Linked DNA regions of Homo sapiens: region 2 is linked to region 1. The links come from fine-mapping of genetic effects on gene expression. A gene starts in region 1. The other region holds a variant in brackets. All regions are shown on one strand. Distances are from middle to middle. Region 1 holds the start of LINC00639 (long intergenic non-protein coding RNA 639). Region 2 overlaps LINC00639 (long intergenic non-protein coding RNA 639).

The links.
Region 2: its variant is fine-mapped to the expression of LINC00639 in whole blood (TOPMed, PIP above 0.99).

The regions. Positions count from the first base shown.
Region 1 is chr14:38,915,535-38,918,463 of GRCh38, forward strand. It overlaps LINC00639 (long intergenic non-protein coding RNA 639), which reads right to left and starts at 1,348. Exons shown (of 5, transcript NR_039982.1): 1 at 1,248-1,348. All of the region lies in intron 4 of LOC105370457 (a long non-coding RNA gene), which reads left to right.
Region 2 is chr14:38,826,214-38,829,142 of GRCh38, forward strand. All of the region lies in intron 4 of LINC00639 (long intergenic non-protein coding RNA 639), which reads right to left. Among named protein-coding and RNA genes, the nearest start is that of LINC00639, 89 kb to the right of the region's middle. The variant G/GA (reference allele first, on the strand shown) is at 1,764.

The DNA of each region.
Region 1 (2,929 bases):
CACACCTGTAATCCCAGCATTTTGGGAAACCAAGGTGGACAGATCACTTGAGCTCAGGAGTTTGTGACCATCCTGGGCAACATGGCAAAACCCCATCTCTACAAATAATACAAAAAATTAGTAGAGCATGGTTGTGTATGCCTATAGTCTCAACTACTTGGGGGGGCCAGGCAGGAGTTTGTGACCAGACTGGTTGACAAAGTGAGACACTGTCTCAAAAAAAAAAAAAAAGAAGAAGAAGAAGAAGAAAGAAAAAGAAGAGCTGGTACCATTTCCATACATCTTCTGAAGTCTAGGCAGGGGGTCTCAAACCTCAGTTCTTGACTTCTGGGCACCCACAGGCTCAAGACCACATGGAAGCTACCAAGGCTTGGTGCTTCCACCCTTTGAAGCAACAGCCCAAGCTGTACCATGGCCCCTTTTAGTCAGGGCTGGAGTGGCTGGGACACAGGGCACCAAGTCCCTAGACTGCACACAGCACAGGGACCATGGGGCTGGCCCACGAGAGCATTTTCTCCTAGGCCTCTGGGCCTGTAATGGGAGGGGCCGCCATGAAGACCTCTGATATGCCTTGGAGACATTTTTCCCATTGTCTTGGGGATTAACATTTGGCTCCTCATTACTTATGCAAATTTCTACAGCCAGCTTCAATTTCTCCTCAGGAAACCGGTTTTCTTTTTCTATCAAATTATCAGGTTGCAAATTTCCCGAATTTTTATGCTCTGCTTCCCTTATAAAACTGAATGCCTTTAACAGCACACAAGTCACCTCTTGAATGCTTTGCTGCTTAGAAATTTCTTCAGTCAGATACCCTAAATCATCTCTCTCAAGTTCAAAGTTCCACAGATTTCTTGGGCAGGGGCAAAATACCACCAGTCTCTTTGCCAAAACATAACAAGAGTCACCTTTGTTCCAGTTCCCAACAAGTTCCTCATCTCTATCTGAAACAGCCTCGGCCAAGACCTTATTGTCCATATTGCTATCAGGCTTTTGGTCAAAGCCATTCAACAAGTCTCTAAGAAGTTCCAAACCTTCCCACATTTTCCTGTCTTTTTCTGAGCCCTCCAAACCATTCCAGCCTCTGCCTGTTACCGAGTTCCAAAGTCACTTCCACATTTTCAGGTATCTTTTCAGCAGCACACCACTCTACTGCTACCAATTTACTCTATTAGTCCATTTTCTTGCTGCTGATAAAGACATACACAAGACTGGGCAATTTACAAAAGAAAGAGGTTTATTGGACTTACAGTTCCACATAGCTGGGGAGGCTTCACAATTATGGCAGAAGGCAAGGAGCAGCAAATCACATCTTACATGGATGGCAGCAGGCAAAAAAAAAAAAATGACCCTGTTCAGGAAAATTCCTGTTTTTAAAACTGTCAAATCTCGTAAGACCCATCACTATCATGAGAACAGTATGGGAAATACCCACCCCCATGATTTGATTATCTCCCACTGGGTCCCTCCCACAATACATGGGAATTATAGGAGCTATAAGATGAGATTTGGGTGGAGGCACAGAGACAAACCATATCACATGGAATCAACCTATATGTCCACCAACAGTAGACTGGATGAAGAAAATGTGATCAATATACACCATGGAATACTATGCAGTAATAAAAAAGAAAGAGATATGTCCTTTGCAAGAACACAGATGGAACTGGAGGCCACTATCCTTAGCAAACTAATACAGGAACAGAAAACCAAATACTGCCTGTTCTCATTTATAAGTGGGAGCTAAATGATGAGAACACATGGACACACAGAGAGGAACAACACACACTGGGGCCTTTCAGAGGCTGGAGGGTGGGAGAAGGAAGACAATCAGGAAAAATAACTAATAATTAAATAACTAATGGGTATTAGGCTTAAGATCTGGGTGACAAAATCTGTACAACAAACTCCCATGACACAAGTTTACCTATGTAACAAACCTGCATTTATACCCCTGGACTTAAAATAAAACTTTTAAAAAATAAACAAATGATAATAGCAGATTATAGCCCATTAAATAAACTAGGAATTCATGAGTTCAAATTACATAAACAAACAAATAATTATTCCTTACATAAGAATGCTAATTACTGTATGCAGAAGGAAAGGTAGAATTGGAAGGTCATTATTTGGCAACTATTATAGTAGTAGTTGATTGAAGAAGAAAGCATCAAATGATGCTGAATCTGAGTGAAGGTTTGATGACAACCAACATGGTCTCAAATTATCTCCCCACAAAGTGCTGTTAACTGCAAAGGGGAGATGAGTTACTTTGCAGTCATAAATGTTGTATCACTGGGCACAGTGGCTCATGCTTATAATCCTAGCATGTGGGAAGCTGAGGTAGGCTATTTTCTTTTAGTAATTTCATGGCTTGTGGTCTTAGATTTAAGTCTTTAATCAATTTTAATTTGACTTTTGTATATGGCAAGAGATAGGGGTCTAGTTTCATTCTTCTGCCTATGGATATCCAGTTTTCCAAGCCCCACTTATTGAAGAGACTGCCTTTTCTCCAACATATATTCTCGGTACCTTTGTTGAAAACAAGTTTACTGTAGATGTATGAGTTTGTTTCTGGGTTCTCTATTGTGTTTCATTAGTCTATGTGTCTGTTTTTATGCCAGTACTATGCTGTTTTGGTTACTGTAGCCCTGTAGTATAATGTAAATGACAAGTTAACCAGTGCAGCACACCAACATGGCACATGTATACATATGTAACAAACCTGCACATTGTGCACATGTACCCTAGAACTTAAAGTATAACAAAAAAAAAGAAAAGAAAAGAAAGGAACAGAGGAAAAGGAGGAAGGAAGGAAGGAAGAAAGGAAGGAAGGAAAAGAGGGAGGGAGGGAGGTTGTATTAAAATGAGAAAATTGATTAGTTCACAAATTATGCATTAAAAGGCCCACAGTTTACTAGATCTATAAATT
Region 2 (2,929 bases), 89 kb before region 1:
GATTATATAATCAGCTGCTGATTTAATTATTTTGTTAGTTGTTACATTGGCATCGTGAAGCTCTTTCAAAACCTTCTGCAGTGGTTCCACCAAATCCTAATATCAAGTACATACTGAATTTACAAACAATTCTAAAAGAAAATTAATCAAAAAATCCTTGTGGTTCCATACATTGAAACAGAATAAACACAAAGCCCTTTGTACACAAGGCTGCCTTCCTAACCAACGCTTAGTGCAAGTAGGTGAACTACTTTAATTACCCAGAAAATTCCTTTTTAAAATGTGATTGCTATATTTGAAAGAAAAAAAATAACAATTTACAGATCTTAGTACTCTAAATACAATGTTTTGTGAAAACAGGTAAGTTTTATGTTTGTGGATTAACCAGGCTGGTTTTTAAATTGTACTCTACAGATCAGAAGCGATCAGTGAGAACCTCTCTTTCTACATGTAGTGCTGCCGCTGGGAAGAAATCGGTCATCATGAATATTCATTGGACACCACCAAGTGCTACACCAGACTGAGATGGAGAAGGAGAAAGAGAAATGGTCCATCAAATTAGAAGAAAAGCCCTTTTCATGATTTATGAAAAAGAGAACTATTAAACCTTATGCACTACAAGATTTTATGTCTTTTATGTCAACCTATGAATAACTTTTCCTCTGCAATATTCCAATTTTATTTTCCCTTTAATAATACAACTTTTAAGTACTAAGGATACATAAGATACTTTGTATTAATGATGCTTAGTCAGTCATGGATGCCTGACTTATTAAGGAATACTCAAAATATTCAAATATTTATGTTAGTAAATCTGCTTCAGACTACAAGGAAGAGTTGCTATCTGACTGCTTATGCAATGCTGCTCTGTCCACTACCTTCCTGTCTTTTTTTAAATTAGGTTCTATTGCCCAACTTGCCTGTTTTAAACATTTAGCCAATGTCCTTGAAGTGTTTTCATCATTATCAAGTAAAAATCTGAAAATGAGAATAGTATTAGTATCTACAGCTCTCTATTTTTGTCTTTAACTTATCATGCACCTATTTTGTGCTATTATATATATTCAGTATCTTGCATATAACCTTATTTAAAGAGTATAGCATCATTGTAAAGCAGATACATTAAGGTGTCTGTTTTACAGATGAAGAAATCGAGGTTCAGCAAGGACTTGCTCAAAGTCACACAACTGGCAAGTGACAGAGACTGGATATGAACTGAGTCAGACTCCAAATTTTGACTCAAAAAAGACACTACCTTTGTGCTCTATAAAGTGCATTCATTAGGGCCTTTATCATGCCAGTCTGTCAGCAATTGTGTTCCCCCTGGCTCGGAGCCTTTCCTCCACACTTCAATCAAATAGAAATCCCTCATTGCAGTTGAGAACTAAGTGGAGTTACTGGCCCAAAGCATTCAGGTTAGCTCTATGGATAGTTTCCAAGTTGACCAAATCGTAACTGACCTGTTGAGAGACACAGGTGATTCAGGAGATAATTTTTTTCATACTATACTGGGAGGTGAATGGTAAAAAATACCATAGGATGAGGGAAACAAGGGGAAAATGAACAAAAACGATATCCATTATAACTACATAAAAAGAAACTGGCACACCAAACATCAGTGTTATTATGAAGAACTATTCACCATCTGAATCTGACCACAGTTAGAAAACCTGCCACATCACAAGCGCCTTGGATAATAAAAACATCTATTTCAAATGTTTTCCTAAAAAGCATTTTGAAAGAATAAATAAGATTTCAAAATA[G/GA]AAAAAAAAATCTAACTGCATAAACTGAACACAATGCTGAATGCTATCCTCATCCAAACTGTCTTTCCTTTATCTTACTTATCACCTTCAATATACAATAAAAGTTCAGCCACAAAATCAGCTTAGAAAGGAGAATTACCTGGCCTAACTGCATAGATTGATTTGATAGTGAGATACTTTCCTGCAAAGACATTTATGTGTTATCTGGAAGAACTTTTAGCTCTTCATTTTAAGTTTTACCAGCGATTGATTTATTATAGGAAAAAGATTCAATTTTTCCTCTTATGCTCAGCAATGTGATTTTTTTAAGAAACAACAAGGCGAGCATGAGAGTTCGTGTCTGTAATCCCAGCACTTTGGGAGGCTGAAGTGGGTGAACCACTTGAGCCCAGGAGTTAAAGATCAGCTTGGGCAACATGGTGAAACCCCATCTCTACAAAACACTTAGCTAGGGGTGGTGGCACATGCCTGTCATCCCAGCTACTTGAGAGGCTGAGGTGAGAGGATCATCTGAGCCCAGAAGATCAAGGCTGCAGTGAGCCATGATTGTGCCACTGCACTCCAGCCTGGGTGACAGAGATAAGAGCCTGTCTCAAAAGAAAAAAGACAGGTTCAGTTCAAATAGGAAATCAGCATCTGTGGTTTCAGCTGGATTTCCCAAGTTACAGGGTTCACCTTCTGAATATGCTGCTATTCTTCCTCTTTTTGACGTTTCTGCACTTCCTAAGATCTCTAGCCCATAATCTTGCTCTAGAGACTACCATCTTTGAAACCTAACTCTCTCGTACTCTTACATACATTTTTGGTTTAGATGCTCATTGCCTAACTCTCAAACTAGAACTCTTGTTCTTCTTGAGCAAGAAATCTTTTCCTTCCTATTTACTTTTGTTTTTCCAAAAGCTGGCACAAAATTAGCACTTAAAAATAACTTTTGGCTAGCTGACTATTTCAAGAGTTCCAAATGACTTGGACGGAGACACAATTTTAAGTCATCAAAGGTCCATGACAACATATAAACATTGGACTGTTTCAAGATGGAGGTCTGACTGGTGGTTTTTCTTCCCTTTTTTGGTGCAATAGAATTTATATATTTAAACATTAGGTCAGTTACCTAAAATAAGTTAAACATTAGACCAGTAACCTAGAAAGAAAACTTGTTTTGAGGT